Regions from separate parts of the Homo sapiens genome. Here region 2 is linked to region 1. The links come from fine-mapping of genetic effects on gene expression. A gene starts in region 1. The other region holds a variant in brackets. All regions are shown on one strand. Distances are between the middles of the regions.

The links. PIP is the estimated chance that this variant, and not a neighbour inherited with it, causes the effect.
Region 2: its variant is fine-mapped to the expression of CCNB2 in tibial nerve (GTEx, PIP above 0.99).

Annotation. Positions count from the first base shown.
Region 1 is chr15:59,100,077-59,112,082 of GRCh38, forward strand. It overlaps CCNB2 (cyclin B2), which reads left to right and starts at 5,070. Exons shown (of 9, transcript NM_004701.4): 1 at 5,070-5,216; 2 at 7,246-7,374; 3 at 7,481-7,594. The coding sequence starts at 5,193. RefSeq lists an enhancer at 4,593-4,882.
Region 2 is chr15:59,128,085-59,140,090 of GRCh38, forward strand. It overlaps MYO1E (myosin IE), which reads right to left. Exons shown (of 28, transcript NM_004998.4): 27 at 10,114-10,283; 28 at 4,350-9,372. The coding sequence ends at 9,296. Among named protein-coding and RNA genes, the nearest start is that of CCNB2, 29 kb to the left of the region's middle. RefSeq lists enhancers at 3,352-3,851, 10,126-10,420. The variant C/T (reference allele first, on the strand shown) is at 7,524.

The DNA.
Region 1 (12,006 bases):
CATTGAGAATTCAGTTTACAAATGATCAGAAATCACAGATACTGTGCTATGTTTTCTTAAACTGTGATCCCCCTGTGAAACCAAGATGATAAGACTATTCCAGCAAACGAAAAGCTTATTTGGTGCAACGACTTGGAATGCCCCCAGGTAAGTGTATTTGTTACCTGTTTTGTAACAAACCACCCCCAAATTGAGTGGTTTATAAAACACATTTATTTGCTCACAGTTGCGTGATTTGGGCGGTGCTGGGCAGGCATAGCTCATCTTTCACTGTGGTATGACGTTTCCTCATGTGGCTACATTCAGCTGCAAGTTCTACTGAGACAGTGTCCACGTGGCCTCACCTTGCATATCTGACGCGTTAGCTGGGATGGTTAGGACAGGTGATAATGCGCTGGGCATTTCTCTCAATGTCATCTCTAGAAAGGAATAGCTTGGGTCTCTATGGTGGTGACGCAGGACTCCAAGGGAGAAATAAACTGCTTCCTAAGACCCAATCCTGTTACTGGAACAGCATCTCTTCTTTCACATTCTGTTGGTTAAAGTAAATAACAAGGCTAGCCCAAATTTAAGGAGAGAGAAAATAGATTACACCTGTTCACAGAAGGCACTGCAAAAAAAAAAAAAAAAAAAAAAAGGGGGGCACTCTTTCATCCACCACAGTGAGGTAAAACAAGCCCCATTGTTTTGTTAGAATACCTAGCACAAGCTTTCTGAACGCATTTACTTCTCCCCCCAAACCAAAGCTTTGCATATAGAGAAGCGCATGTGCAAAATGATTTATATTCTCAGAGGAATCAGCAGTGAAAGAACTTTCCGTTTCCCAGTGTGATTGATTTATTATTATTATTATTTTTTTGAGACAGAGTCTCACTCTGTCACCCAGGCTGAAGTGCAGTGGCGTGATCTTGGCTCACTGCAACGTCCGCCACTCAGCCTCCCAAGTAGCTGGGACTACGGGCACACGCCACCATGCCTGGCTAATTTTTTTTTTTTTTTTTTTGTATTTTTAGTAGAGAAGGGGTTTCACTGTGTTAGCCAGGATGGTCTCCATCTCCTGACCTGGTGATCCACCCGCCTTGGCCTCCCAAGGTGCTGGGATTACAGGCATGAGCCACCATGCCAGGCCTCCTAGGGTGATATTTGAAAAAAAGAAATTTATGGATGGGCTGGGCATGGTGGTTCATTCCAGCACTTTGGGAGGCTGAGGCAGGAGGATCACTTGAGCCCAGGAGTTCGGGATCAGCCTAGGCAACATAGTGAGACCCCCATCTGTACAAACCATTTAAAAATCAGCCAGCCGAGTAGTCCCAGCTACTCGGGTGGCTGAGGTAGGAGGATCACTTGAGCCCGGGGGATTGAGGCTGCAGTGAGCTGTGATCACACTGCTGCATTCCAGCCTGGGTGACAGAGGGAGACCCTGTCTCAAAACAAGAAGTTTGTGTGTAAGGTTTTAGGTTAGTTACAGTGAGAAGTACAAAATAAGAAATATTATCTTCATTTTTAACACCTGTAATCTCAGCACTTTGGGAGGCCAAAGCCGGAGGATCTCTTGAGCTCAGGAGTTTGAGACCAACCTGGCAACATAGCAAGACCTCCTCTCTACAAATAAAAAAATTAGCTCGGTGAGGTGGCTCACTCCTGTGGTCCTAGATCCTCAGGAGGCTGAGGTGGGAGAATCACTTGAACCTGGCTGGTCAAGGCTTCAGTGAGCCATGATTGCACCATTGCACTCCAGCCTGGGCAACAGAGCAAGACGCCTTCTCAAAAAATAAAAAATAAAATAAAACGTGTTAATACAGATTCAATTACTCAATTTTGACAATGTCAAGTCGGTTAATAAAAGCACTATGCCCAGCCTAGGCAACACAGTGAGACCCTGTCTCTACAAAAATTTTTAAAAATTAGCTGGGAGTGGTGGCATATACTTGTAGTCCCAGCTACTCATGAGGCTGAGGCAGGAGAATGGTGTGAGACCAGGAGTTCGAGGCTGCAGTAAGCCGTGACTGCACCACTGCACTCCAGCCTGAGCAACAGAGCAAGACCCCGACAAAAATAAATAAATAAGAAAGCACCTTTACCGTTCATAAAAAAGCCCTATGAGTAAGCAAGCATTGTCACTTTTATGGTTGTATCTTTTGATAACATATCAACATAAAGCAAAAATATTTTACAACTTCAGTGCACTAAAACATCTATTTTTCTTTTCCAAGACTTTTCCATAGGATACCTAGTTTTTAGTTATGGGATGATTATGGATAGGCTAACATCTTTTCACATAGTAGCTGCAATTATTCCTGTTTCACCTAAGAGGAAACAAGTTCAGAACTGTCAGATGCCCTCCAACCAATAGGGATTGAGGCAATTTAGGAATTTAACTTTACATAAGTCTCGTCCAACCACACTGATTATTCGTCCCCAAGTAACAGAACCATTTAAGAATGATGGGAAAGCTCGGTCAAATTTTTATTTATTTATTTTTGAGACAGAGTCTCACTCTGTTGCCCAGGCTGGAATGCAGTGGTGCGAACTCGGCTCACTGCAACCTCTGTCTTCCAGGTTCAAGCGATTCTCCTGCCTCAGCCTACCGAGTAGCTGGGATTAGAGGCCTGCACCACCACGCCCAGCTAATTTTTGTATTTTTAATAGAGACTGGTTTTTACCATGTTGGCTAGGCTGATCTTGAACTCCTGACCTCAAGTGATCCACCTGCCTCAGCATCCCAAAGTGCTGGGATTACAGGTGTGAGCCACCATGCCAGGCCTTCAGATTCTTAATGGAACCTGATATCATGGGTGTTAGATCACTCCTTTCCTCTTTTCCTTCTCTTTTCCCATTAATCTCACTTTTTCCTTTCCTGTTTCTTTTTCTGTCTTGATCTTCACCTGCTTCTTTTTACAAGGGCAACATTAATACTGTTCTCTTTGGACTGTGCTAATCCTCCCACTCTTCTGCTCAAGACTGGTGTCACACCTTGTTTTTCATTCTTAAATCTTACATACATCATAAGATCATTTATTAGATGAATATTTTTTAATTAATACACTTAAATTTTATTTCAGTAGCTTTTGGGATATAAGTGGCTTTCTGTGATGTGGGTGAATTATATAGTGGTGAATTCTGAGATTTTAGTGTGCCCATCACCTAGGTAGTGTATATTTTATCTAATATGTAGGTTTCTATCCCTGTCTCCCCTTCCACCCTCCCTCTTCTGAGTCTCTAAATTCCATTATATCACTGTGTTTGCCTTTGTATATTCACAGCTTAGCTCCCACTTACAAGTGAAAACATACGGTTTTTGGTTTTCCACTCCTGAGTTACTTCACTTAGAATAATGGCCTCTAGCTCCATCCAGGTTGCTGCAAAAGACATTATTTTGTTCCTTTTTATTGCTGAGTAGTATTCCATGGTGTATATATACCACATTTTCTGTACCCACTCGGTCGATGGGCACTTAGGTTGGCAATTGTGAATTGTGCTGCTGTAAACATACATGTGCAAGTGTCTTCTTCATATAATGACTTCTTTTCCTTTGGGTAGATACCCAGTAGTGGAATTGCTGGACCAAATGGTAGAACTACTTTTTGTTCTTTAAGGAATCACCATACTTTTTTCCATAGAAGTTGTACATTCCTACCAGCAGTGTTTAAGCATTCCCTTTTCCCCACATCCACGCCTACACTGTTTTTTGACTATTGTTTTTTGAGGTTTTTTTTCTTTTTTAGACAGGGTTTCAATGTGTTGCCCAGGCTGGAGTACTGTGGCACAATCATGGCTCACTGCAGCCTCAGACTCATGGGATCAAGGGATCCTCCTGCCCCAACACACGGCCCCCCGCCCCCCGCCCCCCGCCCCCCTCCCAGTACCTGGGACTACAGGTGCTCACCACTACACCCGGCTAATATTTGTATTTTTGTAGAGACGGGGTTTTGCCATGTTGCCCAGGCTGGTCTTGAACACCTGGGCTCAAATGATCTGCCCAACAGGCCTCCCAAAGTGCTGGGATTACAGGTGTGAGCCACTGCGCCCGGCCTTTTTTTCTGACTTTTTAATGATGGCCATTCTTGCAGGAGTAAGGTGGTATCTCCTTGTGGTATTAACTTGCATTTCTTCGATGATCAGTGATGTTGAGCATTTTTTCATGTATTTGTTGGCCATTTGAATATCTTTTGAGAAATATCTATTCATGTCCTTTGCCCATTTTTTGATGGCATTATTTTCTTTCTTGCTGATTTGAGTTCCTTCTAGATTCTGGACACTAGGCCTTTTTCCGATGCATAGTTTGCAAATATTTTCTCTTAATCTGTGGTTGTCTATTATTTCTTTTGATGTGCAGAAGCTTTTTAGTTTAATTAGGTCCCATTTATGTATTTTTGTTTTTGTTGCATTTGCTTTTGGGGTCTTAGACATGAATTCTTTGCTTGGGCTGATTATTAGACGAACATTTATTGAGCACCAACCATATACGACAAACGATGTACTAGGTGTTGGGAATACAATGGAGAACTTACATGAATCACCAGTCACACAAATCTCTTTTATCTTTTTTTTTTTTTTTTTGCCTTACTTGAGAATTTGGGTTTTTGAGTAAACGCCATTATTCTCTCTTTTTTTAAGCACACTTTTGCATCTCAACCACCTAACACACTGCATCCCTGAGCAACCCGGAGGGGCCGGTTCCTGCACCCAGGCCAACACAACTTAAACCCCAACACACCAGAAGAGGAATAAAGGCCAACCAACTTCCGCCCACCCACTACAAACGTCGAGAGAAATTCGTAGATGAGGCCTTGTCAAAATTCAGAGGCGTCCTACGTCTGCTTTCCCAATGAGACAGTTCCTTTTTGTTTGTCTCAGAGACTGGGGTTTTTTTTTTTTTAAAAGACTGTAGGCAGAAAAAACACCCCAACCGGCTGTTGTGACAATCAAACGTGTCTAAGAAAATTCAGCCAATGAGAGTGCGAGAGTGCATCTTGTGTTGGCCAATGAGAACAGCGACCCGTGCGCAGGGCCGCCCAATGGGGCGCAAGCGACGCGGTATTTGAATCCTGGAACAAGGCTACAGCGTCGAAGATCCCCAGCGCTGCGGGCTCGGAGAGCAGTCCTAACGGCGCCTCGTACGCTAGTGTCCTCCCTTTTCAGTCCGCGTCCCTCCCTGGGCCGGGCTGGCACTCTTGCCTTCCCCGTCCCTCATGGCGCTGCTCCGACGCCCGACGGTGAGTGTGCCCGGGGACCGCTCTCAGAGGCGAGTCCGTCGGCCCCACAGCTCCCCTGTCGCTTCTCTCATCTGCTCCGAGCTTCTCCGTCCCAACCGGGGCTGCTTTTCTCTTCTCCGGAGCTCACTGCTTCGCCCGCGTCCCTGGCCCTGCGGCCGGTCCTCTCCGGCCCGCCTTTCCCCGTCTGGATTCCGCCCTCCCCTAACCCCTCCCTGCCCCGGGGTGGGAGAAGTGTAGGAAAGCGCTTCCGAGATGGCGCCTGTCAAGTGAGCCCCCAGAGCACTAGGCCTAGTACTCAGCGAGCGATCCCCGAGTGCTCTTCATTGCTAGAGAGTTATCTACTTCCACGTTCCTGGGATTTCCCTCCCCCTTTCTTACAACTCCTTGCCAACTAAGGGACCTGTGATGGCGGCTGGGAGGAGGACTGGAAGGGTTCTGTAGGCAGTAAAGTGTACGGCGTGTTTCATCAGGCAACTGCCAGGCTGTTTTTCAGATTGTTCACATTTCTTTTTGTATGAGTTTCCCATTTATTTCGGCACGCTAAGTCTTCCATGCTACGTTCACTAATAAATGGGTTTGTCCCCTTAAAAAATTAATTTCTTTACTCAAATGTAACAGAGGTTTTTGAATATAATTTGGACCAATGTGGCAGACTGAGAGAAAAGGGTCCAAATTCATTTATTTCATCCTTGCAGAGATCAAAGTGTTATGGTGTTTTGGGTATTTTTCCTGTGGGCTTGAATTGTACCGGGACCTACTTTTTTCCTTTGCCGAAAGCTAGAGGGCCCTGACACACCTGAGTTCCATCATCTTGGCTATAAGGTTAGATAAAAGCTGCCAATTTTCCTATCCAGATGAATTTAAATTGAGTCACATTACCAGGCTTCTACCCATAAGCATTACATTTTCAAACACTTTTTCAGATTGGCAGTTGCTGCTGGAAGAAATTGAAGTGTGACTTTTGAGAATCCTAATAGATTGAATACATTTAGCATTTAATTAATATCCTTTTGTGGATCTAAGTCCAACTGACAAGTAATTTTTTATAATAATGTATTCTATAACGTTATTTAATAGTCAAAACCTTTCTGTTCAGGGAAGGCTTGAGTTTCCCTGGCCCCTCTCTCTGCCTGGTAGATCCACTCAAACCCCTTGTTGGGAGTTTTATTAGAGTCGGGACCCTGAACTCTCAGGGATAGGACATGCTGGTTTTTTGCTTTTTTCTTTTTTAATGAAATGTTTATCACTTCTATAATAAACTTTTTTTGGTATGAGTTGCTTTTCCTAGCAAGTTTTATTTCCAAGCACATTATGTCTAAAGCAGGTTAAGGTCAACTGACAATTTTTATTTCATACAATTCCAACCTTCCCTGAGTTTGGGAGCTAAAACTATATTACTCAAGAAAACTACTTCCATTCTAAATGTCCTTAATATAAGAGAAAATCCATTCTATGGCAACCTCATTTTAAAAAGCTGTAGTTCTAAAAGATCATGCATACAGGAGCATTTCTTATTTGTGAAATGGCATAAGAATCAAAGCTAGTTTAGGTTTTAAACATCTGGTTTTTAAACAACCAGACCTATTATTAACTATTAATATTATAGCTTTATTATTTTTCATCTTAATTTACTTTTTACCAAGCTCTGTAAAGGAAGGTTTTTAAATATATGCCTTTAACTTGCAGGGATCTCTAACAAGTGATATGGGTACTATATGAGAAATAATCATTAAATACTAATAAGCTTTGAAGTTCTCTTACAGGCCCACTTGAATACTCAGAATAGCTTTGCAAGGTTAGTGGGAGGATCTTTATTACGGATAAAGTAGATGGGTGATTTGCCTAATTTAGAGTGATGTTATTAATCACAAATAGCATTTTTAGACTTCCTGAAATGTACCTTTTCCATCTTGCAAATAGATCTTGACGTATTGTCCTTTCCCAAAGCAATTCTAAATTTGAGTATCTAACATTAGCAAAGTATTTCAAATTCTTTCAAGGTTTCATTACTTTTTTTTTTTTTTTTCAGGTGTCCAGTGATTTGGAGAATATTGACACAGGAGTTAATTCTAAAGTTAAGAGTCATGTGACTATTAGGCGAACTGTTTTAGAAGAAATTGGAAATAGAGTTACAACCAGAGCAGCACAAGTAGCTAAGGTAACAATGATGAAGACTGAATGTGAATACAGAGGCCGATTCTGTATAGTGCTGAGTCCCACAACGCTGGCTGTCTTGCGCTATTCATGTTTCTTTTTCCTTATAGAAAGCTCAGAACACCAAAGTTCCAGTTCAACCCACCAAAACAACAAATGTCAACAAACAACTGAAACCTACTGCTTCTGTCAAACCAGTACAGATGGAAAAGTTGGCTCCAAAGGTAGGAAGTTCTGAATTTACAAACGTATTTAATGAGGTAGCCTGTTTTTAGCCAGACTACAAGGGTGCCTTTATCATTGCTGTACCTTCTAACGAACATTCATAGCTGGAGCTCTGCTTTGAAGCAATAGTGTAGGAAATGAGTATATACACCTTTTAACTTAATAACATTATGACCTTGAAGCTGGGCATGGTGGCTTATGCCTGTAATCTCAGCACTTTGAGAGGCTGAGGCAGGAGGATCGCCTGAGGCCAGGAATTCAAGGCTGCAATGTGCTATAATGGTGCCACTGCACTCTAGCCTGGACAGCGGAGCAAGACCTTGTCTCTGAAAAAAAAAAATAAATATTACGACCCTGAATAATAAAGTTGATTACCTTAATACCCAAATAAAGGACAGAATGGTTCAGAAAATTCATGGAATGAGTGAGATTTTTAGGGGTAGAGAGAAGATGATAGCTGACAGGAAAGGGCACGTTTGTGGAGAACAAAGTAGCAACAAAGATCAAGGTACCAAAGCGGATATGGACCTATAATCATGTCCTTTCGTTAAGGAGTCTGAAAGACTTAACTGAGTCAGGCGGCTTGAGTGAGGAACCAGAAGATAAGGCTGGGAAGAAGGTTGCAGTTGGATTTGAAGGACTTGGAATTTGGATTTTTATCCCATTAGGCTTGAGGAAACAAAGTTTTGAGGAGTACCGAAATGATGAAAACAATGTAGGGAGGTAAGTTAGGAGGTATTGCACTTATCCAAGCAAGAGCTGATGAGGGTCTGGAGCTAGCCCAGATCTTCCCTAAGCGCCTACCCATACACCAGTATCAATAGTGGGTATGAAGAAACAACATCAAATGTGTTAGGATGTCTCAGAATGTCTTTCATCTTGTATTTAGGAAAGAATACTTTGGACACATGGCTTGCACTGCAGGAGTGGTATCCTTACCCACTTGGATATTAAATAAACCATTTATGCAATAAATGAACAAAAAGTAGGAAAGTCAGGAGAGGGCGGTAGCTTTGGTAAAGGTATCCTGTTTGGCTTCCGATTTGTTGAGGTAACCGAGGGACATCTGCCTGGAAATGCAGTTGGAAATGTGGCAGCAACATCTGAAGGCAAGGAACAGATTTGTCAGCTTTCTTCACAGAGATGATGGTTGAAAGCTCTTTGCTCTTTATGAGAACTAAAGCTTAGAAAAAGTAGTTGAGATGGGACTTCATTTAAAAAGCCTTCCCTAGAAGGTTTCTATAACAGTGACCTCCTGAAAGCCAAACCCAAAGGCTGGTTTTCAGACCTTGATCTCTTAGCAGTTGTGCAGTGTTTTACATGTGTAATGGTTTGAATGTGGTTCCTCCCACATCGCAGGAGGGCGATTTGGCAGTATATGTATATATTTTTGGGGGGGGACGGAGTCTTGCTCTGTCGCCCAGGCTGCAGTTCAGTGGCTCGATCTCTGCTAACTGCAACCTCCGCCTCCCGGGTTCAAGCGATTCTCCTGTCTCAGCCTCCCGAGTAGCTGGGATTACAGGTGCATGCTACCATGCCCAGCTGATTTTCACTATGTTGGCCTGGCTGGTCTCCAACTCTTGACCTCAGGTGATCCACCTGCCCCCGCCCCTCAAAGTGCTGGGATTACAGGTGTGAGCCACTGCGCCTGGCGGTAGTATATTTCAAATGGTTATTCTCCATACCCAGTAGCTTTGTTTTTTATCCAAAGAAAATGATCAGAGGGATAATCAAGTACTTTTAGATAGTGCTATGATGAGTGTCTCTTATAGAGTAGAGAAATACCCTAGTTAAATCCATTTAAGGAAATACTATGCAGCCATAAATATCATGTTTTAGTAGAATATTTAAAGGCATCAAAATGCTTGTAACATTAAGTGGAAAAATCAGATTATAACAATATATAAACAGTGCAACCCCAGATTTGCTTTTAAAATGTACATTTGTATGCAGAATATTGATGGTAGTTATTTTTGAATATTATGTTGGACTTAAGATTGACTTTCATTTTCTTCCTTAAAACGTCAAACTTTGGCCGGGTGCAGTGGCTCACGCCTGTAATCCCAGCACTTTGGGAGGCCGAGGCGGGCGGATCGCGAGGTCAGGAGATCGAGACCATCCTGGCTAACACAGTAAAACCCCGTCTCTACTAAAAATACAAAAAATTAGCCGGGCGAGGTGGTGGGCGCCTGTAGTCCCAGCTACTTGGGAGGCTGAGGCAGGAGAATGGCGTGAACCCTGGGGGCCGGAGCCTGCAGTGAGCCGAGATTGTGCCACTGCACTCCAGCCTGGGCGACAGCGAGACTCTGTCTCAAAAAACAACAACAACAAAACAAGAACAAAAACAAAAAACTTCAAACTTTTACCATGGGTACATATTACTGTTCAAGTTAGAGAAGAAGAAAAGAAGGCTTTTTTTTTTCTTTTTTTAAAAGCAAAGACCATAAATATGTTACTAAAGAAACAAAGGGAAAAATAGTTTCCTCCTGTGACCTCCATAACTTCATCCTTTTTGTGTTTCCTTTACTCCTTGGCTGACTCCTTTTTCTCTTGCTTCCTGGCAAAATTGAGGCCACTGTTTGAGATAAAGCATTATGGACCCGTAGCTCAGTTCATATAAAAATCAATTCCAGGGTTGAAACATATAGCTACATGTTCTAGATTTAGAAGTTATGAGGAATTAATGAACAGGAATTATTTCCAATTCAAATACATTTCCCTCTGAGAAAGTAGTGAAGGAATCTCTAAGTCCACGATTTAGGTAGAGTCCCACCTTCTAGCAGGTGAGTCTCTCTGCCTGCCTGTCTCTGGTCAGCCTTCTGGCTTTTACTTTGTCATCTGCTTTATCTGCAGGGTTATCACTGTTCTTTAGAGCCAATCCCTGGAGGTGTGGAAATGCCACTTGAGTGCACAGGTTTCTATCAATTTTCCTGGAAAGGTGATAACATAAGCCATGTGTCCATGATAGGAGATGTTCCCAGTCTTCTAACCAAATTTATACTATCCTTTTTGCAAAACTGGAGGGCAGGTTTCTTTCTCTGTAGCAGTTGACACAACTGAATCACAAAGTGCCCTGGCTGAGACCTCGGAAGAGTTCCAGCCCTTTACAGGTAGTCATAGAAGCTTATTATCCTGCAGGTTTTGGAGAAAATGGTGTTTTTTGCTGATTAATGAGGCTTTGGTAAACACAGTAGTTAGAAAGGACATGGAAGGCTTTCTACTAGTCCCATGTTTGCTGGACACTGGGGAAACAAGTTGAATAAACCATCGATTCTGTCTAGAGGAGCTCCCAGTCAAGTTGGAGGACATAGGAGTAGAAGTATGGCTTTATCTGTCACAAAGAGAGATGCATGCTTATGAGAGGTACTGAGGAGTCATAGCTAGAACAGATTACCTGACCAGATGAGTAGGATCTTAGAAAGGGTCTTACAATAATTAAATTATGTTGGAGTTCAAAATGAATGCTTTCAAGGAATTCTAAATTAAGGGCCAGGGCAAGAATCTTTGTCTTATCCTAGTGGCTTTTGTTGTTGACTGCTTGATTGATGGAGAAGATCTCACTATGTTGCCCAGGTTGGACTCAAACTCCTGGGCACAAGCAATCCTCCCACCTTGGGCTTCCAAAGTGCCCGGATCACAGATGTGAGCCACCACGCCAAGCCCTTGGTGGCTTTTGGATATGGCTAAACTCAGTTGCACTTCTGAATAGGAGCCAGAAAAATATTCTAAAGTGGTATGATAGCACATGATAACCTCTATCTCCTTAAACCAGACTTTTTGTTATTGACTGCCCTTCCAGGGGTGGGTGATAATGCTTATCCTTGAAAAAGTTAACCTTCAGCTGAAGCTGCATATGCTTATTACAATGCAAATCTGATTCTAGTCACTTGATAAACTCCTTCAGTTTTTCACCTTAACGTTTGGATAAAATCTAAGCTTCTAGAAGCTCGGCTGTTGTTCAGCTTTTCAGCTCATCTTCTCATACCTCACAGGCTATCCTGCTGACATCTCAAATCAATTTGCAGTTCCCAGAATTGCCTTGATTTTCTTTGGTTTGCTTTTGCCTGTTCATCTTCCTTAAGGTCTTACCGTCTCTGGTACCCTGGGTACCTCTACTCATTTGTTCTAGCTCCTTGAGGTTTCCAGGTTCCCAAATTCTATTCTATTCTTTTCTTTCTTTCTTTCTTTTTTTTTTTTTTTTTGACAGAGTCTCACTCTGTCTCTAGGCTGGAGTACAGTGGCATAATCATGGGTCACTGCAGTTTTGATCTCCTGGGCTCAGGTGATTCTCCCATTTCAGCCTCCAAGTAGTTGGGACAACAAGTGTGCGCCACCATGCCTGGCTAATTTTTGTATTTTTTGTAGAGGCGAGGTTTTGCCATGTTTCCCAAGCTGGCCTCAAACTCCTGAG
Region 2 (12,006 bases), 28 kb after region 1:
CTATTGTTTGGAATAGTTTCAGAAGGAATGGTACCAGCTCCTCTTTTTACCTCTGGTAGAATTTGGCTGCTAATCAGTCGGGTCCTGGACTTTTATGGTTGGTAGGCTATTAATTACTGCCTCAATTTCAGAACTTGTTATTGGTCTATTCAGGGATTCGACTTCTTCCTGGTTTAGTCTTGGGAGCGTGTGTGTGTCCAGGAATTTATCCATTTCTTCTAGATTTTCTAGTTTATTTGCGTAGAGGTGTTCATAGTATTCTCTGATGGTAGTTTACATTACTGTGGGATTGGTGGTGATATCCCCTTTATCATTTTTTATTGTGTCTATTTGATTCTTCTCTCTTTTCTTCTTTATTAGTCTGGCTAGCGGTCTTTGAAATTTTGTTGATCTTTTCAAAAAACCAGCTCCTGGATTCACTGATTTTTTTTGAAGGGTTTTTTTGTGTCTCTGTCTCCTTCAGTTCTGCTCCGATCTTAGTTATTTCTTGCCTTCTGCTAGCTTTTGAATATGCTTGCTGTTGCTTCTCTGGTTCTTTTAATTGTGATGTTAGAGTGTCGATTTTGGATCATTCCTGCTTTCACTTGTGGGCATTTAGTGCTATAAATTTCCCTCTACACACTGCTTTAAATGTGTCCCAGAGATTCTGGTGCCTTGTGTCTTTGTTCTCATTGGTTTCAAAGAACATCTTTATTTCTGCCTTCATTTCGTTATTTACCCAGTAGATATTCAGGAGCAGGTTGTTCAGTTTCCATTTAGTTGTGCGGTTTTGAGTGAGTTTCTTAATCCTGAGTTCTAATTTGATTGCACTGTGGTCTGAGAGACTGTTATGATTTCCATTCTTTTGCACTTGCTGAGGAGTGTTTTACTTCCAATTATGTGGTGAATTTTAGAATAAGTGTGATGTGGTGCTGAGAAGAATGTATACTCTGTTGATTTGTGGTGGAGAGTTCTGTAGATGATGGTTAGGTCTGCCTGATCCAGAGCCGAGTTCTAGTCCTGGATGTCCTTGTTAATTTTCTGTCTCATTGATCTGTCTAGTGTTGACAGTGGGGTGCTAAAGTCTCCCACTATTATTGTGTGGGAGTGAGTCTAAGTCTCCTTGTAGGTCTCTAAGAACTTGCCTTATGAATCTGGGTACTCCTGTATTGGGTGTGTATATATTTAGGATAGTTAGCTCTTCTTGTTGCATTGATCCCCTTACTATTATGTAATGCCTTGTCTCTTTTGATCTTTGTTCATTTGAAGTCTGTTTTATCAGAGACTAGGATTGCAACCCCTGCTTTTTTTTTTTTTTTTTTGGTTTCCATTTGCTTGGTAAATATTCCTCCATCCCTTTATTTTGAGGCTATGTGTGTTTTTGTGTGTGAGATGGGTCTCCTGCATACAGCGCAATGATGGGTCTTGAGTCTTTATCCAATTTGCCAGTCTGTGTCTTTTAATTGGGGCATTTAGCCCGTTTACATTTAAGGTTAATATTGTTATGTGTGAATTTGATTTTGTCATTATGATGCTAGCTATTTTGCCCGTTAGTAGATGCAGTTTCTTCATAGTGTCCATGGTCTTTATAATTTGGTATGTTTTTGCAGTGACTGGTACCAGTTGTTCGTTTCCATGTTTAGTGCTTCCTTCAGTAGCTCTTGTAAGGCAGGCCTGGTGGTGACAAAATCTTTCAGCATTTGCTTGCCTGTAAAGGATTTTATTTATCCTTCGCTTATGAAGGTTAGTTTGGCTGGATATGAAATTCTGGGTTGAAAATTCTTTGAATGTTGAATATTGGCCCCCACTTTCTTTTGGCTTGTAGGGTTTCTGCTGAGAGATCTGCTGTTAGTCTGATGTGCTTCCCTTTGTGGGTAACCCAACCTTTTTCTCTGGCTGCCCTTAACATTTTTTCCTTCATTTCAACCTTGGTGAATCTGATGATTATGTGTCTTGAGGTTGCTCTTCTCGAGGAATATCTTTGTGGTGTTCTCTGTATTTCCTGAATTTGAATGTTGTCCTGCCTTGCTAGGTTGGAGAAGTTCTCCTGGATAAATAACCTGAAGAGTGTTTTCCAACTTGGTTCTATTCTCCTTGTCACTTTCAGGTACACCACTCAAATGTATATTTGGTTTTTTCACATAGTCCCATATTTTTTAGAGGCTTTGTTAGTTTCTTTTTACTCTTTTTTCTCTAATCTTGTCTTCTCGCTTTATTTCATTGAGTTGATCTTCAATCTCTGATATCCTTTATTCTGCTTGATTTGGCTATTGATACTTGTGTGTTCTTCATGAAGTTCTTGTGCTGTGTTTTTCAGCTCCATTAGATCATTTATGTTCTTCTCTGAACTGGTTATTCTAGTTGGCGATTCGTCTAATCTTTTTTCAAGGTTTTTAGCTTCCTTGCATTGGGTTAGCACAGGTTCCTTTAGCTCGGAGGAGTTTATCACCCACCTTCTTAAACCTGCTTCTGTCAGTTTGTCAAACTTGTTCTCTGTCCAGGTTTGTTCCCGTGCTGGTGAGGAGTTGTGATCCTTTGGAGGAGAAGAGGCATTTTTTGGTTTTTGGAGTTTCCAGCCTTTTTGTGCTGGTTTCTCCCCATCTTCGTGGATTTATCTACCTTTGGTATTTGATGTTGGTGACCTTCGGATGGGGTCTCTGAGTAGACGTCCTTTTTGTTGATGTTGCTACTATTCCTTTCTGTTTGTTAATTTTCCTTGCAACAGGCCCCTTTTCTGCAGGTCTGCTGGAGTTTGCTGGAGGTCCACTCTAGACCCTGTTTGCCTGGGTATCACCAGCGGAGGCTGCAGAACAGCAAAGATTGCTGCCTGTTCCTTCCTCTGGAAGCTTCCTCCCAGAGGGGCACCCGTCAGATGCCAGCCAGAGCTCTCCTCTATGAGGTGTCTGTCGGCCCCTACTGGGAGGTGTCACCCAGACAGGATACACGGGGGTCAGGGACCCACTTGAGGAGGCAGCCTGTCCCTTATCAGAGCTCGAATGCTGTGCTGGGAAATCTGCTGCACTCTTCAGAGCTCTCAGGTAGGGACTTTTAAGTCTGCTGAAGCTGTGCCCACAGCCGCCCCTTCCCCCAGGTGCTCTGTCCCAGGGAGATGGGGGTTTTATGTATATGTCCCTGACTGGGGCTGCTGCCGTATCTTCAGAGATGCCCTGCCCAGGAAAGAGGAAATCTACAGAGGCAGTATGGCTGCAGCAGCCTGGCTGAGCTGCAGTGGGCTCTGCCCAGTTTGAACTTCCGGGCAGCTTTGTTTACACTGTGAGGGTAAAACCACCTACTCAAGCCTCAGCAATGGCAGGCACCCCTCCCCCAACCAAGCAGGTAATTTCTGCGTTTCCAACTGAGGTACCTGGTTCATCTCATTGGGACTGGTTGGACAGTGGGTGCAGCCCATGGAGGGCGAGCAGAAGTAGGGTGGAGTGTTGCCTTTCCCGGGAAGCGCAAGGGGTCGGAGGATTTCCCTTTCCTAGCCAAGGGAAGCCGTGAGAGACTGTACCTGGAGGAAAGGTACACTCCGGCCCAGACACTGCACTTTTCCCAGTCTTCACAACCGGCGGCAGACCAGCAGATTCCCTGTGGCGCCTGGCTCGTCAGGTCCAACCCCCACGGAGCCCAGCAAGCTAACACCCATTGGCTTGAAATTCTCACTGCTAGCTCAGCAGTCTGAGGTCGATCTGGGACGCTCGAACATTGTTTTCTACGGGGGGAGTGCATCCTCAGCCTCCAACCATTGACTTAAAAACAAAAACCATAAACATAGTGAGTCTCGTATAAAAACAACTTCCCAAGACGTTGGTTTAACAAGATGTTAATTGGTGTTGTAAGAGAAAGGAGTTAGTTAGTCAAATACACTTGTGAAACATTGCAAATGATTGGAAGATTCATAAAGGTTCTGTGCTTTGCAGTAAACTCATTTATCTCAGTTATTTTCCCCAACCTAGAGTGTGGTTGCCTCTTGCTGACAGAGAAATTCAGCGTCTGCTCTTTTGATTCAGGTGCAGCTTGAGGACAACTGCCCCTGGGGAGGAGAAACTGGCTCCAGTTAGGGCTGGCTTTTTACTCTCTTCCTGGGCAGGCAGGACTGCCTGACTAGTATGTCTTTAACTGTAAGTTTTGGGTATCTTTATATGCTGAAATCCTAGTATAGAGTTTTATGAATATCCCTTATTGGGTTAGTGAAGCTTGTTCCCATGGCAGCCTTGGACAACTCTGATCACAAGTGTGAATGGTAACGAAGTGAGACCATGAAAGGGAGCTTTCCTGGCTCTGACAAGCAGTTACTTCCCAGAGATGCTTGAGCTCAACTTCTCTCCAAGAACGCCTGAGTTTTGTAAGCATATTCCAAAGACATTTTATAGCTTCCTTATTACATATTTTACTTAGTTAAATATTAAATGTCCTGACTTAGGAAATTCTTCCAGGATGTCATAAAAAAAGACCTTTAAGATACTTTCTTAGATGGCACAGCAGGCACCCCAAACTAAAATGTCATAAATGGGAAATGAGTGGCAGAAGTAGAAACCATATCATAAAAACACGGAAATTAAAAATGAGATGATGTATCCATAGTATAGAAGAGCACTAACTCTGAACGTGGGTGCTTTGGGTTTGATTTTAAGTAGTGGTGATCTCTATACTTTAGTTTCTGTACCTGTGAAGTGGGGATAAGAGTGTCTCCCTCATAGGGTGGTGCTAAGTAAAGTATGCCAAGCACTTAGTATAGCTTCTAGTGTGAAGAAGATACTTGAACATAGCTGTTAATTATTTTAAAGAGAAGGTTAATGGTCTTGGAAAGAGATGAATCAGAGGATTCAGATTTGTTAGATGGAGCTCCTGCCCATTAAAGGAGCTTACAAGTTTCTAGCTGTTGAGTTTTATGCGTGAGTTTTCTTCTCTCTCTCTTTTTAAATAGACTTTTATGTTCTGAGAGGAAGATATTGGAAGTTGAAAGGCTGACACAGTAGACCATCACATTACTAAATATCTGTTGAATTGGAGAAAATGATTAAAAGCACAGGCCTTTTGGGCACAGTGGCTCATGCTTGTAATCCCAGAATTTTGGGAGGCCAAGGCGGGAAGACTGCTTGAGCCCAGAGCTTTGAGACCAGCTGGGCAACACAGGGAGACCCCATCTGTACAAATAATTAGCCGAATGTGGTGGCACATGCTTGTGGTCCCAGCTACTTGGGAGGCTGAGGTGGGAGGATCACCTGAGCCCTGGAGTTTGAGACTGCAGTAAGGCATGATCGCACCACTGTTCTCTAGTCTGGGTGACAAAGTGAGGTGCTGTCTGAAAATAAAAACGCACAGGCCTTTGACTCAGAGTTCCTGTGATGGCTCCCCCAGGGAAGAACTGTGTGACCTTGGGCGACCTAGTGAACCATACTGAGCCAGTCTTCTTGTTAGAAAGGGTGCTCAGAGTGGAAAGGTATGATCTAGTAGGGAAAAAGACATCAAGATTAGTGGGTAGGAATAAAACCAAGTTACTAAATCCAGAAAGAACTGCAATCAATCAGCTAGGCCTTGGGAGAAAAGCAAAACAGGGAAAGAGGGCAGAATTGCAGAAAGGCTCCTCTGGTCTTTCTTTTGATCACAAAAGTGAGGGGTGCCAGAAACACAGAGTTAAATTGTCTACCAAAGACGCACCGTTCATGCTCTGCTCTTGATTGCCCTGGAAACCAGAATCCAGCCCTACTGCCAGTGAAATCTTAACTGGGACAACACCTATAAAAGAAATGGTAGCAACTAGAGGCACAGGCTGACTTGGTGTGACCAGCTCCACTCAGGGAGGGTCTGGGGATGAGTTCAGGAGGGAGTCGCAAAGAGAAGGAATTTAGATTATGTAAAAGCCATGCTCTATGGAAGCCCATGGAGTTTGTAATTCATAAAGGCACATCCATATTTTCTCTTACTCATTTTTGTGAACACTTCCACCTGGCAGGAGCCCGCTGTCACTCTGGTGCTCTGGGTAAGCTGCTGAGACAGCTCTGTGCAGAGACCTCCAGCCCCCTTGAGTTGAGGCCACATGACTAAGCTCTGGCCAGCAGAATATTGGTGGACATGGTGTGCACACAGGGCAGGTCCTTTAAGGAGGAAACTGCACGATGCTTTTCTACCTTCATTGGGCTGGACTTGGTAGTAGTGGGGAGTCAGGTTTGATTACGATGGGCTGGGACCACACGTTGGGAGGTCAGTGGGTTGGCATCCTTCATGGTTGGGGAGCAAGCTTATTCAAGAAGGCTTCACCCTTTGTCCTCTCCACATGTCTCTGTATTGTTTCACAAAACACTGTGGAAGAGACGGCCCTTTTGCATGTCTTTAAGCCAGTTGGCCAGGTACGGTGGCTCTTGCCCATAATCCCAGCACTTTGAGAGGCTGAGGCAGGAGGATCGTTTGATCCCAGGAGTTTCAGATCAGCCTCTCTCTGTCTCACAGACGGCCATCAGTAGAGTGGATACCACCCTTATACAGACCTCTGTCTCTCTCTCTTCTACAACTAAAGCTTGAACACCTCTACCCTAGGGTACACAGTCAGGCCTTCTCATTTAGTTCCTGGTTACTTAAAACCTTTGGTTGAAGGGATGTCACATTTTTATACTGTGTTTGATACTGCTATACACGTTGCTGTGTGTGCACATGAACACCCCTTATTTCAAACAGGATGGCAAGTTCCAGAAGGTGGGGGTGGCCCCTTGATCTTCTGTATGTTCTTTCCTGGTAAGTGACTCCTAAAGTGGTCATATTTGCTTAACTGCACAGTGAACAAAATGGCAGGCCAGGCTAGATCCACAGACTAGAGGAAACCCAGGTTAGTGTCTTAAAGGGAAAAAAGACATTTTTCTGAAGACTTTTTAATTAGGAAAAAAAGGGAAATGTTATTTATCCCAGATTTTTCTGGTAGTCCCCATGTTGAATTTCTAAATATATACAAATAAGTTTAAGATAAACCACTATTTCTCCAAACTTTTCTTAATAGTGTCAGCATTTCAGCATCTCTACGCAGATCTAAGTCTCCTTCCCCTGTGGGTCACTTACCTATTTCAGCACCATTTGTTGGGCATCTCCTTGAGCCTGGCACTGGCTGGGCACACGATGCAGGTGCTAAGGGCTTGGTCTGTGATTTCCATGGATGAGGGTGTTACTCGTGGGGGTTTAACTCAGTCCCTGTTTTGTGACCTAGAGCCCGATGGTTCCCAGTTACACACAAGTGTAAAATGCCAATCAATCAATCAGGAGGAAAAACAAAGGCTTGTCCCAGCCAGCCAGGGGCTTATGATAACAAGGGAAGATGGTCCTGGTGTTCCTGCCCTGAGAACGCAGCCTGAGTGCTGGTGGCTGTGGGGACTCCAGCATGCTCCTCTGTCCCAGTTCTGGTGGTATCTTCCTCCCACTGCGGGGAGTCCATGAATGTGAAAGTACTTTAGAGACCACTAGTGTCAACAGGATTACCTTTCCTCAACTCACCGCATCATGGCTCTACTTTCCTCTCTGGTCGCAACATGGAACTGAAGTAGCCTTTTAACATTATT[C/T]GTTACTGTTACAGAATGGAGTTTGCTCCCTGTTCTTGAAGTAAAACACAGCAGAATTAAATGTATCTTCGTTTCAAATCTAGATCAATTTTTTTCCCTTATACGTAAGCCCTGATAATTTTTTCCCATGGACTTGAGGATCCTGAAAGCCTCAAAGGTGTATGCTGCTCAAACTCTAAGTTACCAGTAGCTTAAGAATGGCTATGGCACCCAGAGGAGGAAAGGTAGAGAAATGGCAGTCTCTACTTACAACCATTCCATTATTGATGGGCATTACACTGATTCCAGCTTTTCACTATTATGGCAAGAAAACATTGTTTTAGTTTGTTAGGGCTGCCGTAACAAACTACCACAAACCGAGTGGCTTAAACAGCGAAATGTATTGCCTCACAGTTCTGGAGGTTGGAAGTCCAAGACCAAGGTGGGCAGGGCTGGTTCCTTGTGAGGGTGTGAGGGAGAATCTGTTCCAGGCCTCTGTCCAGGGCTTGTGAATGGCTGTCTTCTCCCTGCCTTTTCACATGGTCTTTCCTCTGGCATGTTGGTCTCTGTGTCCAAATTTCCCCTTTTCATCAGGACACCATTATATTGGATTAAGACCCACTCTAATGACTTCATTTTAATTAGTTTTGTTTGTTTGCTCCATAAAGACTCTATTTCCAAATAAGGTCATATTGTGAGGTACTGGTGGCTGGGACTCCAACATCTTCTTTGGAGGCACACAATTCAACCCATAACAAATGTCATAAAAGAAGAAGGTGTTCGCCGATTCCTTTATTTATTTAGGAGGTGGGGGCAGGACGCGGAGTAAGTTTCCTATAGGGAAAGAGTTGAGAAGAGTCTGCAGGGACTGACCTAGAAAGCAGTGACACTCCGTAGTTGGAAAAAAGCAGAGCACATCTTTAAGTACCTGGTGTGAGTTTTGTAAGAAAACCTACCTTATGAATGAGTACAGTGGAATACTACTTAGTACATTCATACATGTTTCTACCATCTCAAGATTTTTATATATACAGTATATGATCTGTTTTTATAAATGTACAGCTTGAAAAAAGATCCTTCTTGTAGTAAGTACAGCATTTAAACACAAACCAATATGGGCCAGCCACATTCTAATTGAAGACCCAGAGAAAGCAAAGCCAGCAGCCCAGCCCCCAGCCCCCAGCCCCTGACCTGCTTGGCGGCCCTGATGGTCCCGGCAAAGTGTAAACCAGTGCCCCTCTGTCGCCCTGGGCTCAGCAGGCCAGCTTACCCTTGGCACGTACATGGGAAGTGCCTGCTCACGCTAAGCCCAGTCTGCAGAGGGCGGGTCCTCCCTGAAGGAAGGTGGCAGAGAGGAATGTGTCTATCAGGTATGGACAAGAGAGATGAAAGAAATGTGCTCTTCAACTAAAGGCACTTGTCAGCGGCCACCTACAGCCATTCTCTAGGCCTGGTGAGCAAGCAGGGTGCTGTTTTGATAGAAGCCTACAAGGTCTGAGCAGACCTCACTTGTCCTCTCACCAGGTTTAAATACAATAAATAAATCTTAATGCATGGTGGTTTTGTCCTCCTGGGTTCCTATGAAGAGGCTACCTTTTAGGATCACTTATGGAGTGATACTCCCTGTCCCCAACCCAGCCTTTTCAGTGTCCTCCATGGGGAAGGTACCAGAATAGCTCCAGGCCTTGGAGAAGCAATTGCTCATTGTGGATTGTAAGGGGAGCCCCTAAATATCCCCTCCCCTGGTCTGTGCCTGGAGCTCCTCTGCCCCATGTGTCAGAGTCACGGGCACCTCAGATCTTGGTCACATAGTTGTTGGGGAACAGGCCCTGCTTGCCTCGTAGTCGACCCGTCCACCAGCCAGAAGGATCTGCAGGGAGAGAGAGGTGGTGGAAGTGAAGATGAGAAAGTCTGTTCTGCCCCAGCCACACACACTCCGCTCCCATGGGCTCAAGTGATTTGGCTCCATCCATGTTGTTTTCCCTTTGTTCTTTAAATCAAAAAGTTTGTTGAAAAAAGTAAGATATCTACCAAATTAATAAAGCACTCAGCCAAGCCCATGGACTGCTTTAATAATGGATATTCAAGGTTGTCTTCCTGGCTTCCACTCCATCCACTTTCATTATGAAGAAGCCAGGAAGTGTGGGTGGGACAGACCTCCCCGTTTCTGGGGACAGCCCCTACCAGGTCTCATCCTCTCAGGGTACAGCCTTTGTCTTGCTACTGAAGTTGGTTCAGGGATGGACACATGGCTAATTTGGTCTGATCAGAATAAAAGTCAGGACTTTTGTCCAATGACTAAGAACAGAAGTTTCAGAGATGATGCACATTTCAGACATGGTTTGATATGTTGGCCTGGAATTGCTGCTGCCGTTTTGCTACCATGAAGAAAAACAGCTTGACAAGGGAGGGAATATAAATAAGGGGGCAGAGCTGAAAGAAGCATTAAAAAAGCTGGTGTCTTGATCAGACTGAGCCTGAGGCCTGACCTGCCTCTACAAATTGCAGTTTGAGGAGCCCATAAATTCTTTTCATTTTCACACTAGATCTTACAGCAATGTGACTGCATGCTCTTTGGGAGGCTGTCCCAGCCAACCAGCCACACACTTACCTTCTTTGATAATATCAATAATGTCATTGGCATTAAAGCTGAGTTCGTCTGTGTCCTGAGCGTCATAGGCATACAAAGCCTTGCACTGTGGCACCTGAGGCTTGGGCTTGGGCTGGGGCTTGGGTCTGCCCCCTGCTGGGGGAGGCCGACTGGTTGTTTGTCTCCTGACCCTGTGGAGAGAGTGGAGCAGATGAGACTGGGCCCCAACAGGGGGCAGCAGCACCGAACGGTGGTTTGGAGCATGGCGGCCGGCACTGGCCTGTTCAAGTTCAAATCCAGCTCCATCCTTAGAAGACATGTGGCCCAGGGTGCAGTCTTTAAACTTGAGGAATAAAAGTAACTTTTCTGACAAGGTTGTTGCAAATGCACATAGCTCTTAAAAACCTTAGCTGCTGTTGTCACTGTGTCCCCAGCATAGAAGGAAATGTGGGAGACACATATCCATAAAAAAGTGTCAAAAGTATACCCATACATTTAAATCAGGAACATTCAGGTATCTGTCCCTCCTTCCTCAAGTTTCGAAATGGAACTTTTGCAGGTGCCACAGAAGCCTGTAGGCATTTCTCCTTCACTGCATTCCCCCCAGATTACCACCACCTTACAGTTTGTATTAACCATTCTCTGGCTCATCTCTACAGTTTGCCACACATGTAAATACCCCTAGCCAATATTTGTGGTCCGACTGTCAACTGTATGAAAGGAATCATATTCCACGGTCACATGCTCAACAACTGGATGACGTGCCCTGCTGATGCCTGCAGCTATCGTTCCTTCACCCTTGCTGCCTGATACTACACCACTGCGCGAGTGAGTGTGTCACAGTTTACTTCTCCAGGGCACTGTGGATGGTCACTTGGGATGGTTCCAGTTTTCACTATTATAAAAAATGCTGCCATGAGATTTGCTCCCCATTCACAACCTTATTATGCCTCAGACCTCACTCCTGTCTACTCCCATCCCATCTATCCACCCACCCTCATTACTCCAGAGACTTCCCTCCCACCAGTTCATTATTACTCCTTAGACTTCCCTCCCATCCCTCATTATTACTCCTCACACTTCCCTCCCACCCCCTCATTATTACTCCTCAGGCTTCCCTCCCACCCCCCTCATTCCTCCTCAGACTTCCCTCCCAACCCCTCATTATTACTCCTCACACTTACCTCCCACCGCTCATTGTTACTCATCACACTTCCCTCCCATCCCTCATTATTACTCCTCACACTTCCCTCCCACCCCTTCATTATTACTCCTCACTTTCCTTTCACCCGCTCATTACTCTGCAGACTTCTTTCCCACCCCCTTATTACTCTGCAGACATCCCTCCTACCCCCTCATTATTACTCCTCAGACTTCCGTCTCACCTTCTCATTATTTCTTGTCAAACTTCCCTCCCATCCCTCATTATTACTCTGCAGACGGCCCTCCTACCCCTTCCTTATTACTCTACAGGCTTTTCTGCCCTCTCATTATTACTCCACAGATGTCCCTCCTACCCCTCATTATTACTCTGCAGACTTCCCTCCTACCTCCTCATTATTACTCCTCAGACTTCCCTCCCGTCCCTCATTATTACTCCTCACACTTCCCTCCGACCTGCTCATTATTACTCTGCAGACTTCCCTCATACCCTCATCATTACTCCACAATCTTCCCTCCCACCCCCTCATTATTAATCCACAGACTTCCCTCTCATTTTATCAATCAGTTATTACTCCTCAGGTCTCCTTCCCATTCTTTCATTATTACCCCTCAGAGCTCCCCTTTGCCCCTCCAAAAATGTTGCTGTAAATATTCTTATACAAGAGTTTATCCAGAGCAGTTTCTCAACATCTGCACTACTGACATTTGCGGCTGGGAATTCTCTGTTGTGTGTGTGTGTGTGTGTGTATG